3 linked regions of the Homo sapiens genome follow. The protein of the gene in region 2 interacts with the protein of the main gene of each other region in a pairwise test. Each region holds a gene or a part of one and is shown on either strand. Other genes may lie near its edges. The genes, in order: SPARC, CPEB2 and ATG2A.

Region 1 (3,748 bases), on a different chromosome or scaffold from region 2:
CTATATGACCTCAGGCTAATGACATTCCTTGCTTAACCCTCAGTGTCCCCATCTCTGAAATGGACAAGGATATTGGTATCAGCGAAGGGCTTTGGGAATGAAGGAGGGGGTACTCTGTGCTTTGCCAACAGGTGTGCAGCAATGACAACAAGACCTTCGACTCTTCCTGCCACTTCTTTGCCACAAAGTGCACCCTGGAGGGCACCAAGAAGGGCCACAAGCTCCACCTGGACTACATCGGGCCTTGCAAATGTGAGTGTCCTTGGGCCCTTCCAGACTCCTGTCTTGGGGAGAGAGCTCTGAGCTGGCACTGATGCTGTCTCTGCCACCCCCATGCTGGGTGATCTTGGGCAAATCTCTCTCCCTTTCTGAGTCTCGGCATCCCCATTTATAAAATGAGGTAATTGTCTATGAGTTGGCTCCTCTCAACTCTGAGTTCAGGGCACTTTCTGGGGAAGGACTGAGCGATTATGGAAGGTCAACATCAGGGAAGATTTCTGGAGTCTCTCACTAGCATCTGAGACAACTGCATTTCATTTCTCTAATGAGGAAGAATTTCTTCTCTCAGGCTAAGTTGAATCTTTCTTGCTTCAACACTGTAAAGCAAAAATGATGTTTGACCTGGGCCTACAAAATATTTTGAAAATATCTGATTTTGAATGCTTTAAAATAAGGGCATGCCTGTCGGTTTGCTTTGGGCCCTGTTACTTGGTACTGTCATATCTTCACCCTTTTACTCCATTACATTCCTATCTGCCCTCCGAAGAGAGAGGATAAGCACCCTCTTCTGGAAACCTGGGAGTCAGTTGTCTGGGGAGGGATGCCAGGGTGTGGTCTGATCTTTGGTTAGTGACCCCAGCTGCAAACTCAGTGGGGCCAAGTGCCTTGTTCAGTATCCTCCCTATCATGGGAGACCCCCAAGACCACACCTGCTCCCCCTCCAAGGCAACATCCACACTGTGGGTCTTGTGTATTCTGGCACCCGATGGCAATGAGGAGAGCCACTCACCTACCTCAGGTGTACAGGGTGCAGAAAAGTATGTAGGGGGTGGGAAACAAAGTTCTCCTCGTGGGACCCCAGGTATGAAATTGAGAAGGTACAGAGTAGAAAAGGAGGGTTGGGGGAAGAAGCATGGGTAGGAAGTCCCTGGGCAGCAAGACTAGAGAGCCTGTCTTAAGGAGTCTTTATGAAGTGGCTTTGCTTTCCCTGAGGCATGTTGCCCACTCACTTCAACTCCTAAGGTTTTTATCACCAGATATTCTCTCCCAGACCCCAGCTGATGATGAAGGTAGCCTCACAGAGGGGACTTTCCCTGGTTCAATGATGAGGGAAGAACAGACCCCTAAGCCCCCAGGTGACCACACTGCCCTGGATGCTGGATGAGGCTCTGACATTGTGGCCTTGAGCAAGTCCCTTCTCTCCATGCTGACCTCTAATAAGTCCAGTACAAAGTGTGAACCTGGGTCAGGCGCGGTGGCTCACGCCTGTAATCCCAGCACTTTGGGAGGCCGAGTAGGGAGGATCACTTGAGCTCAGGAGTTCGAGACCAGTCTGGGCAACGTGGCAAAACCTTGTCTCTGGAAAATATACAAAAATTAGCTGGGTATGGTGGCATGTGCCTGTAGTCCCAGCTACTCAGGAGGCTGAGGAGGGAGGATTGGTTGAGTCCAGGAGGCTGAGGCTGCAGTGAGCCGTGATTGTGCCACTGCACTCCAGCCTGGGCAACAGAGTGAGACCCTGTCTAAAAAAAAAAAAAAGAAGAAAAAAAGAAAAAAGAAAAGAAAAGGAAAAGAAAAGTGTGGACTTGGATGAAATCTTCAGGTCCAACATTTGGGATTCTAAGTTCCAAAGACCAGGTTGGAATCATTTCTAAGAAGGTTCTGGTGGTTACACATTCCTGAGTCCTCTACTCCCCACTCCCTGCCAAGCTGGGCCTGTGGATAGATGTGATCCCTCAGCCTCCCAGCTTCAAACACCTGCCAGTGGTTGACGTGAACAACATGGGCTCAGTCTCAGCTAGGATCACACCCAAAGCCCAGCACCCAGTAAGGTGCAGGAGCCATCCATTTCCCTGAGCAGAGCAGATTAGGCTGAGGAAAGCAGCAGCCATGCCTTTGCACAATGCATTTCTAGGGCATTCTTCCCACACATAATCTCCTCTGCTCATTGTCCTGTGAAGAAACTGTGGCCTGGAGAGGTTGAGCCACTGTGCCAAGGCCACCAATGCAGGTGGTATGTGGGTGGGTGGGGGCCTGGGGTGGGGAGCACGGCCCAGGCAGGGTCTGTGCTGACCGCCCTTGTGTTTGGAACCTAGACATCCCCCCTTGCCTGGACTCTGAGCTGACCGAATTCCCCCTGCGCATGCGGGACTGGCTCAAGAACGTCCTGGTCACCCTGTATGAGAGGGATGAGGACAACAACCTTCTGACTGAGAAGCAGAAGCTGCGGGTAAGTGGTCTCTCTGGCCTTGCTGGCCCCGTGCTGGTGAAGATCCAGTCCCATTCCTAGAACTGGGCCCCCAGCTGCAGGGCGGCATCCTGCTCCGGAGCGTGCATTTACCCCTGAGCACCAGGACACGTACTTCTCTTCCTGCCTTTGGAGGCTGTGGTGCACATTAACATCTTAGAGGCTCTGAGAAGTCCTGCAGCAGAGACCTGCTCCCTTTGCTTAACCTAACGTTAAACAAAAGAGACACAAACAGCCCTATTCCTTTTTCCTTTGGAGTCTGTGGATCTTAAGCTTTAATGAGCATATTAACTACCCCAAGAAGCTGATAAAATGCAGATTCCTTGGCCCCATCTCAGGCCACTGAAACAGTGTCTCTAGAAAGCAAGGCCCAGGAAGCTGCATTCTAAATACTCCCCAGGTGATTTATGTTTATTTTATTTTTTTGAGGCAAAGTCTCACTCTGTTGCCAGGCTGGAGTGCAGTGGTGCGATCTCGGTTCACTGCAACCTCCACCTCCTGGGTTCAAGTGATTCCCCTGCCTCAGCCTCCTGAGTAGCTGGGACTGCAGGCATGCTACCACACCTGGCTAATTTTTGTATTTTTAGTAGAGATGGAGTTTCACTGTGTTGGCCAGGCTGGTCTCAAAACTCCTGGCCTCAGGTGATCTGCCTGCCTCAGCCTCCCAAAGCGCTGGGATTACAGGTGTGAGTGTGTGCCCGGCCTTCGCCAGGTGATTTTGATGTGGGTAGCTATATGGAGAATTCTTTGAGGTCATCCCAGGCTTCTATTTTTGTGAATGAGATGCTAGTACCCATCTATGACACCTCCCTCCCCTCGCTGTGAGCTTTGGTCTGGCTAGTCTCTGCCTGCTCTGGCCTTCTGGGAGGGGTGGGAGGGCCCGACTGGTCCAGACAATCTCCATGGACCTCTTGTCACACACAGTCTCTACTCCCTCAGGTGAAGAAGATCCATGAGAATGAGAAGCGCCTGGAGGCAGGAGACCACCCCGTGGAGCTGCTGGCCCGGGACTTCGAGAAGAACTATAACATGTACATCTTCCCTGTACACTGGCAGTTCGGCCAGCTGGACCAGCACCCCATTGACGGGTAAGACCCCAGACCCTAGAGTGAACAGAGCTCAAGGCTGGCAGGTGCACTAGCTATGGCCAGAAAGCCTCTCAGCAGCCTATACTGCTCCAAGCCCTGGCATCCACAGTTTGCCTGGGGATTGGAGCAGAAGGATGAGGCATCTGGAGAAAAGATGTGGACCTGGGACAAAGAAACCGATAAGACACTCTCA
Region 2 (3,748 bases):
CTCAATACAATTTTTGGGTGACCGCTAGATTGGTAAATTGGCATTGAAAGAGTGTCTTGTTGGTTTTGAATCTTGTTAGCATTTGTTGCAGAGTTCATTCTGTTTAAGTCCATTTTCTATTTTCGTGATTAAGGATTGACAGAGACGCAAAATATGACCTTAACCCCATAACTTTTTCAGTTGACCAAAGTTTTCAAGGATTAGTCTTTTTAAAGTGAATATTATCTAAATTAACCCAAGTGAAAGTTAACAGTTTATCTAAGTTAACCAAAGTGACAGTGAACAGTTTTTGTTGAATCACTGATTTCTTTCTTAGAAAAGAGAATGTGGCCTATGAGGATTGAAAATAGGGATTTTGAAATAATGTTCCACTTTTTCATGATTTTTATAACCCTCAGCAACTGTCTTTTGTGTCTCAGGATCTTCATTTTGTTATCTGGAAACTTGCCCACAGAAAATTATCTGTAGGTAATTTTGTATTTACTTAAAGTTGTGGTACAGAGCGTTGGAAGAACATATACCATGATCCATATTTAACTGTAATTTGCTTTTGGACAAAAGATGGGTCTAGCCATGGAGTGTGAGAGGTCACACAGCTTTCATATGGAATTTTAGATCACTGGAAGATAACTTTGAGCATTAAATCATTTAATAAGGAGAGTAAGGCCCTCAAGAATGAAGTGGTTTGTCCATGGCTCTGTAATTATGCTTTGGACCTCTGTGGAAGAGGAAAGAGTAATAATATACTCATGATTATGTTAGCATTTAAAAGTGTTTAAAAATTGGTGCTGTAGATCAGGAGTTTCTCTTTTAATTGTCTTACAAAAAGCAGGTTCAATTTTAAGAGAACCATATTTATTTGTAGTAACTGTATGGTTCATACTTCTTTAGCTACATCTTAACACCAAAGTATTAAAGTATAAACTTACTGACAGTAGAATTACCAGCAATGAATACTTCTTAAAAAAAAAAAAAACCCAAAACTACAATTATTAGCGTTTTGATGGATTTACCATTCTTTGATGATTTGACTTGTCTTGCCACAGGTTTGAGATTAGGATGTAATTTACTTTTGAAAATGAATCAACTTGATGGAGACTTGTATCAAGATCTCTAGTGGAATAATCAAAGCATATAGTTAATTAGCAGTATACCTCAGTGGATCCACCTATGGGCAACATCAGATAATTGCTTCACAGTTTATGGATAATTAAGTGAAATAAAAACAATTAAGACAAACTATGCTAAAACTGGAATAAAATGCCTTAACAGTTAAATAAACAATGCAGAAAAATGACATAGTTTCTATACTGTCCTTATTTCAAAAGGCGATTTTAATTTGTACAAGAGTAATTCCCACTTTTGTAGTAGTGCAACTTGTTTTGGAAACATAAAGTCTATATATTTCACTTGTATGAGTAGGATATTTTAATTAACAAAGACCATATTTTTAGTTGTGTGCCTAGCATAATTAATATGGTTGCTTTAAGATCACCATGTATGTTATATCTTTAAGAATCTTCAGAGTTAATTTCAATTTTTTTCTTCATATTTATCATGTATACAGTTATCTCTGAAGGATAAAAAGGAACTGCATGGTTCTATTTTAGTAACTGTCATAAAATATCATGATATTTATAGTATACAAGAAGATGAAAACTTGACCAGCATCAAATATGATTTCACATAGAAAGATCTCAAGACTGTTACTTTTATAACCTAGAAAAGATGTATTCTTTTGCCTTTATATATTTCATTCATATAAATTCTTAGGTCTGAAATTTGAATTTGAATTTGAATTGTAAATTCTTTAAATGCCGCAATTTAAATAGCTATGTTTTCCCTAGCCTCTTCTGAAACAGTCTCCCTGGAGCAACCATCAGAGCAGTGGCTGGGGCACTGGAAGTATGTCCTGGGGAGCAATGCATGGCAGAGATCATCGTAGAACCGGAAACATGGGAATCCCAGGAACTATGAATCAGATATCTCCATTGAAGAAACCGTTTTCTGGTAATGTCATAGCACCACCGAAATTTACTCGCTCAACTCCATCACTGACTCCAAAATCTTGGATTGAAGATAATGTGTTCAGAACAGACAACAATAGTAATACACTCTTACCCTTACAGGTAAGAATGGTATGTAAATGACCTTATCTCTAATGTTAATCTTTCAAAATAGGGAGTTGGGTGGTGGTGGTAGTGGTATGCTAAAATTAACATTTTTTGAAATAAAGTTTTAATTTTTAAGCATGTAATTTAATTAACAAAGGTTAAAATATCTATACAGAGAAAATTGAGAATGTAAAATAATTCTCTAAACACGCAATGGAAAATAAGCTTAGTAAAACGTAGAAAAACCTTTTGTATTTATTAAATACATACTGAAGCTTTCAATTAGCAGCTCTTTAAGAATGCTTTAATTTATAAATTCTAATGGGCCACCAAAATTTGTTTCTCCTTTAATATAGCTAAGCTAATATGTTCTGTAATTGTAACTGTTCTTAGAATTGACTATAATTGGCTGTATATATATTAGAATATACTTAGTACAGCTGTGATTGTGGCAAAATAATATTAGGGCTTTTTTGCATCTAATTTAAATTTATCTTCACTAATTCACCGATTATTTTTTCTAAATGTGGCCTAATACGTTGATTAGACTTTTTTTTTCTTTCAGTATTTTTATTATTTTCTTGAAGTTCCCTTATGGCTATTGCAAGTGAGGTTTTTGTTTTGTTTTGTTTTTTTCTTAAACCTTTAGAGGATGGAATGAGGATTTAAGATAGAGCTTTATTTTTTGTTTTCTTTCTTTCTTTCGTTGGGTGGGTATGGGGAAGACAACTGCTCATTTCTGATGAAAACTTCTATGCTATTGAAGGTGAGATCTAGTTTGCAGTTGCCAGCTTGGGGCTCAGATTCACTCCAAGATAGTTGGTGCACTGCAGCCGGAACATCCAGAATAGACCAGGTAGGCTGCACAGTGTATACTTTTTAGGATTTCGGTTAGGAGTTTAGTATTTATATTATGAGTAGGATTTATTATTTACTTTCTTATTATACCTATTGAAACATATGTTAGAGGACACTGAAGCAATTTATTTTTTAAGGATCACCTGCTTTGAACTATTTAATGTAAGAAATTTTTTATTTTCAAATTTAAGAGTAATCCTTTTATAATTCTAAAACATAATAAACTTTTTTTGGAAAAAGGAATTATATACACAAGAGCACCTGACTTTAAACATCAGTCAAACTAAGCAGATTGTATCTCTTTTCAGAATTAAATGCAATTAGGTACAAAATCATATGTTTACTTAACATCTAGCTTTATATTTGATGTTTCATAGAACTTTTCAGTAAATTTTTGTCATGAAGTCTGTATTTGTTTTGAGATATATTTCTAAAAAAGACTTCTCTTGGTTCAGTTTTTTCACCTTTATTAAAAAATATATAGCCTAGTATTCTAAATTTTGTTACTGCTTTTATACCCTGACTTATTCCAAATAATCAGTTTCCTATGGAGAAACCGTTAGTCAAAAAGCTGGGAGTTAGCCTTAATCAAATTACATTTACACCTTTGGTGGTTACAAAATGCTATCTTTCTTCCTGCAAACTGAATTTGAATGTATACTAGGTACCAGGTGGTGAGGATTATTATAGGTTATAGAAAACTCAGTCCTTATATATGCAGGTTCTTTCTTACAGAGCTCAAGTTTGAATGAGCATAGACTTAACGTTGTGTGTGT
Region 3 (3,748 bases), on a different chromosome or scaffold from region 2:
GGCCATCCTTCCTGTACTGCTCAATGGGCAGCCACAGCAGGTCCCGGAACCCTTGGACTAGGGGGAAGGAGCGCTCAGAGACACCCGAGGCTGCCCTGCCCCCACCTCCTCCTCTTATTCCCAATGGCAGCTTCTAGGTTGCCCAAGGGTAAAAGCAGTTTCGAGGGCTTCCAAACCTAGACACTCACAGAGCTGGACAACCGAGTGCATGGGGCCCACGCCTCCCAGCAGGCCGGGCAGCTGGTTCTTGCGGATGTCCTGCAGCCACTCGTTGAGGGCATAGCCCAGCACCTTGTCCACACCCAGGAGCCTGGCAGGGCAGGGAGGTGAGGAGGCAGAAGGTGAGGCAGAGCCACACATGGAGGGATTGTGGGGTCAGGAGGACTCAGTACCCCTGTGGCAAGTACTGTGGGCACTCTACCCTCCCTGTGGTCCCACCCAGTCATGTGCAGAGGGACTGTGTCCTTTTTTTTTTTTTTTAGATGGAGTCTTGCTCCGTTGCCCAGGCTGGAGTGAAGTGGTGCGATCTTGGCTCACTGCAACCGCCTCCCAGGTTCAAGCAGTTCTCCTGCCTCAGCCTCCTGAGTAGCTGGGATTACATGTGTATGCCACCACGCCTGGCTAATTTTTGTATTTTTAGTAGAGACGGGGGGGTTTCACCATGTTGGTCAGGCTGGTCTCGAATGCCTGAATGTGTGAGCCATCATGCCCAGCCAACTGCGTCCTTTTTACAGAGGAGAAACTGAGGCCCTGAGAAGGGTGATGACTTGGCCAAGGCCACACAACCAGTCAGGACCAGAACAGAAGGAAGATCAGGGACCCTGGAGAGAGGCTGGGGTGCTGGGGACTCACCCGTGCCTGCAACAGAGCCGCTTTAGCTTCAGCTCGGAGCAGTTGAGTTGGGCCAGGCCGATGAGGAGGCCAGCAAAAGTGCCCTGGGAGAGGGAGGGGGTCCAGGTTTACCCAATGGGACTCAGGGAGCTAGCTAGCCCATGGGAGCCACTGGAGAGCGCCCTGGCTGCTAACAGTGCCTGGATGCAAGACCTGGCCCCCAGAGGGACTCAGCCACAGCTGACCCCACATGGCCACCCCATCCGACCGCCCCACTTACCACCTGGTCCATCGTGACGTGCTTGCCATGGTAATCCAGCCAGATGGGGACCTCAGACGTGAAGCGGAACTCTCTGGGTAGGGGAGCAGGAAGAGGGGGTTCTTTGCTCACTGGCCTGGCCCCCAGCAATCTGGCCCAGGGCCCCCCACCCGCAGTCCAGCAGCCTACCTGAAGTAGATGGGCTGCTGGTCAGGAGGGGAGGGGCTGTGTCCACCTCCTGGGGCCTCCTGCGAACCAGTGGTCTCTACGCCTTCGGCCTGCCCTTCCAGGGGGCTGCTGGGCTGGGCTCGAGTCTCGGGGCGAGCTAGGGGAGGGGAGGTCACAGACTGGGGATGGGGCCAGGAATGACTGGGAACCTGTGCTGTCCTGGGAGGCAGAAGGCCCAGACGCTCCCCTCCCTGGCCCAGCCTCTCACCCTCAGCGGAGGTCTCCCCTGGGACCACGGGGTTGATGCCGGCCACCAGACTAGTGAAGAAGTCCTTGAGGAAGAAGAGGGCATCCTGCAAGGGAGAGGTCCAGATGTGGATCAGACTCAGAGGCCTGGAGACAGTGGGGTCACCCTAGGCTCTGCCCTCACGTAGACCACTCACCTGGTCCACATTGAGCCGCAGGGGCATCAGCGAGACGCGGAGACAGCACTCAGGCCCACCCAGGTTGGTAGTGGGGGCCACATGCAGCGCTTTGATGGTGAGCTGGGAGCAGAGGGTGAGTTCTGGACACCTGCTGGGCCTCTGGGGCAGCAGCTCACCCAGCTGTTCCCTGACAGCTCACCCAGCCACCCTGCCTCTGAACACGCTGTTCCCTTCGCTAACACAGCCCCTAGCTCTGCCCTTCTCCCAGGCTCACAAACAACCTGGGTGTTTGTGTGGGAATGCGTGTATGTGTGTGAATCCATGCATGCGTGAAGATGTATCCCCAACGGTCTGGTGCCCTGCCCCAGGGTGGATGGTGCAGGTCGCTCATACCATGTTAGAGTGGGCACGTCGCGGCATCCGCTCACTCGTGTGTAGGTACAGGAACTTGTTGATCTGGGAGGAGGCGAGCCGGTCTCGGACCTCCAGCTCCTGCACGATGAACACCTGACGGGACAGCGGTCGCTCCTCCAGCTCCTGGCTGGGGGCCGCAGGGCCTGTGGCTGGCTCCGCTGGGTACACCTCGTGCTGGAAGCTTACCTGTGGGGTGGACAGAGGCCTGGCCAGGTAAGCAGGGCCCCAAGAGGGAGGGAAGGGCTGGCCCCAGACCCCTTCTCTATTCTTTTTTTGAGACAGAGTCTCACTCTGTCGCCCAGGTTGGAGTGCAGTGGCGTGATCTCGGCTCACTGCAACCTCTGCCTCTCGGGTTCAAGCGATTCTCCTGCCTCAGCTTCCCCAGTAGCTGGGATTGCAGGCATGTGCCACCACACCCAGCTAATTTTAGTAGAGACAGGGTTTCACAACGTTGGCCAGGCTGGTCTCGAACTCCTGGCCTCAAGTGATCTGCCTGCCTCGTCCTCCCAAAGTGCTGGGACTACAGGCATGAGCCACCATGCCCGGCCCCTACCCCTTCTCTATTCTATGCCCAGCAGGGACCTGCCTCTCCCTCCAGACCTGACCCTGCTCTTGCTTCCCATGCCAGCTGCACTGGTCTCTGCCCCTCAAGGAGTCCAGGCCTGTTTTGCCTTCAGGACTTTGCTCTCGTAGCCCCTCTCCGTGGAGAGCCTTCCTTCCCCCTCTTCCTGCACACCCGCTGGCTGGCCATCAGGTCTCAGAGAGGCCCCTGGCCCCCTGCTCTGACACTCATCTCCCGCAGGTTCTTGCAGCACAGCCCACCAACCCGAGCAGCCTGAGGCCCCTCTGCCCTTTGCCTCTAGCGGCTCCTTGGGAAGCCCAGCACTGGCCTGGCTCACTCTGAGCAAGTGGGACCCCCCTGCCCCAGGCAATTTCCCAGGCCCAAACCTTGAACCCTCTGTACCACTCTCTGTATCTCACACACCCCATCCGCAGCTGAACCTGTGGCCAGCCCCCATCTAGGCTCTCCTGAACCTGCTCACTAGCCCTCCCTGATTGCTGCAGAGCCCCACCCCACAGAGGCCTCTCCTCAAAAGCCCTGAGGGGTTCGTCTCTTGTAAGACTCAAAAGAAACATTCTGGGTCGCTGGTTATGCACAGGCTCTGCTGCTCCTGGAAATGTCAGGATGCTTCCAGCTTCCAGCATTTTTTTTTTTTTTTGAAACAGAGTCTTACTCTGTTGCCCAGGCTGGAATGCAATAGGGCGATCTCAACTCACTGCAACCTCTGCCTCTTGGGCTCAAACAACTCTCCTGCCTCAGCCTCCTGAGTAGCTGGGACTATAGGCACACACCACTGCAAATGGTTAATTTTTTTTTTTTTTTTTTTTGGTAGAAATGGGGTTTCGCCATGTTGCCCAGGCTGGTCTCAAACTCCTGAGCTCAGGTGATCTGCTCTCTTCGGCCTTCCAAAGTGCTGGGATTACAGGCATAAGCCACCATGCCTGGCCCCAATTTGCGGCTTTCACGCTGTCCTCTCTGCCTGAAAACTCTTCCTGGCTCACATCCCCACTTGTTCAGGTCTTTGTTCAAATGGTGCCTTCAGAAGAGGACTTTCCAGACCCTCCCCAGCACACCTGTCTCCTCCACCCC

Evidence for each region.
Region 1: the proteins of CPEB2 (region 2) and SPARC interact in a two-hybrid assay, tested with the Homo sapiens proteins (one study listed by BioGRID).
Region 3: the proteins of CPEB2 (region 2) and ATG2A interact in a two-hybrid assay, tested with the Homo sapiens proteins (one study listed by BioGRID).

The regions. Positions count from the first base shown.
Region 1 is NC_000005.10:151,666,168-151,669,915, reverse strand, and holds part of SPARC (SPARC isoform 1 precursor), read left to right. Parts: intron 1-131; coding exon 132-252; intron 253-2,315; coding exon 2,316-2,449; intron 2,450-3,406; coding exon 3,407-3,555; intron 3,556-3,748.
Region 2 is NC_000004.12:15,005,458-15,009,205, forward strand, and holds part of CPEB2 (cytoplasmic polyadenylation element-binding protein 2), read left to right. Parts: intron 1-1,013; exon of another isoform or gene 1,014-1,113; intron 1,114-1,847; coding exon 1,848-2,129; coding exon of another isoform or gene 2,130-2,138; intron 2,139-2,880; coding exon 2,881-2,970; intron 2,971-3,748. UniProt on the Homo sapiens protein: May play a role in translational regulation of stored mRNAs in transcriptionally inactive haploid spermatids. Binds to poly(U) RNA oligomers. Required for cell cycle progression, specifically for the transition from metaphase to anaphase.
Region 3 is NC_000011.10:64,896,560-64,900,307, forward strand, and holds part of ATG2A (autophagy-related protein 2 homolog A), read right to left. Parts: intron 2,284-3,748; coding exon 2,077-2,283; intron 1,879-2,076; exon of another isoform or gene 1,804-1,878; coding exon 1,702-1,803; intron 1,612-1,701; coding exon 1,527-1,611; intron 1,416-1,526; coding exon 1,280-1,415; intron 1,185-1,279; coding exon 1,112-1,184; intron 936-1,111; coding exon 853-935; intron 311-852; coding exon 189-310; intron 58-188; coding exon 1-57. UniProt on the Homo sapiens protein: Lipid transfer protein involved in autophagosome assembly. Tethers the edge of the isolation membrane (IM) to the endoplasmic reticulum (ER) and mediates direct lipid transfer from ER to IM for IM expansion.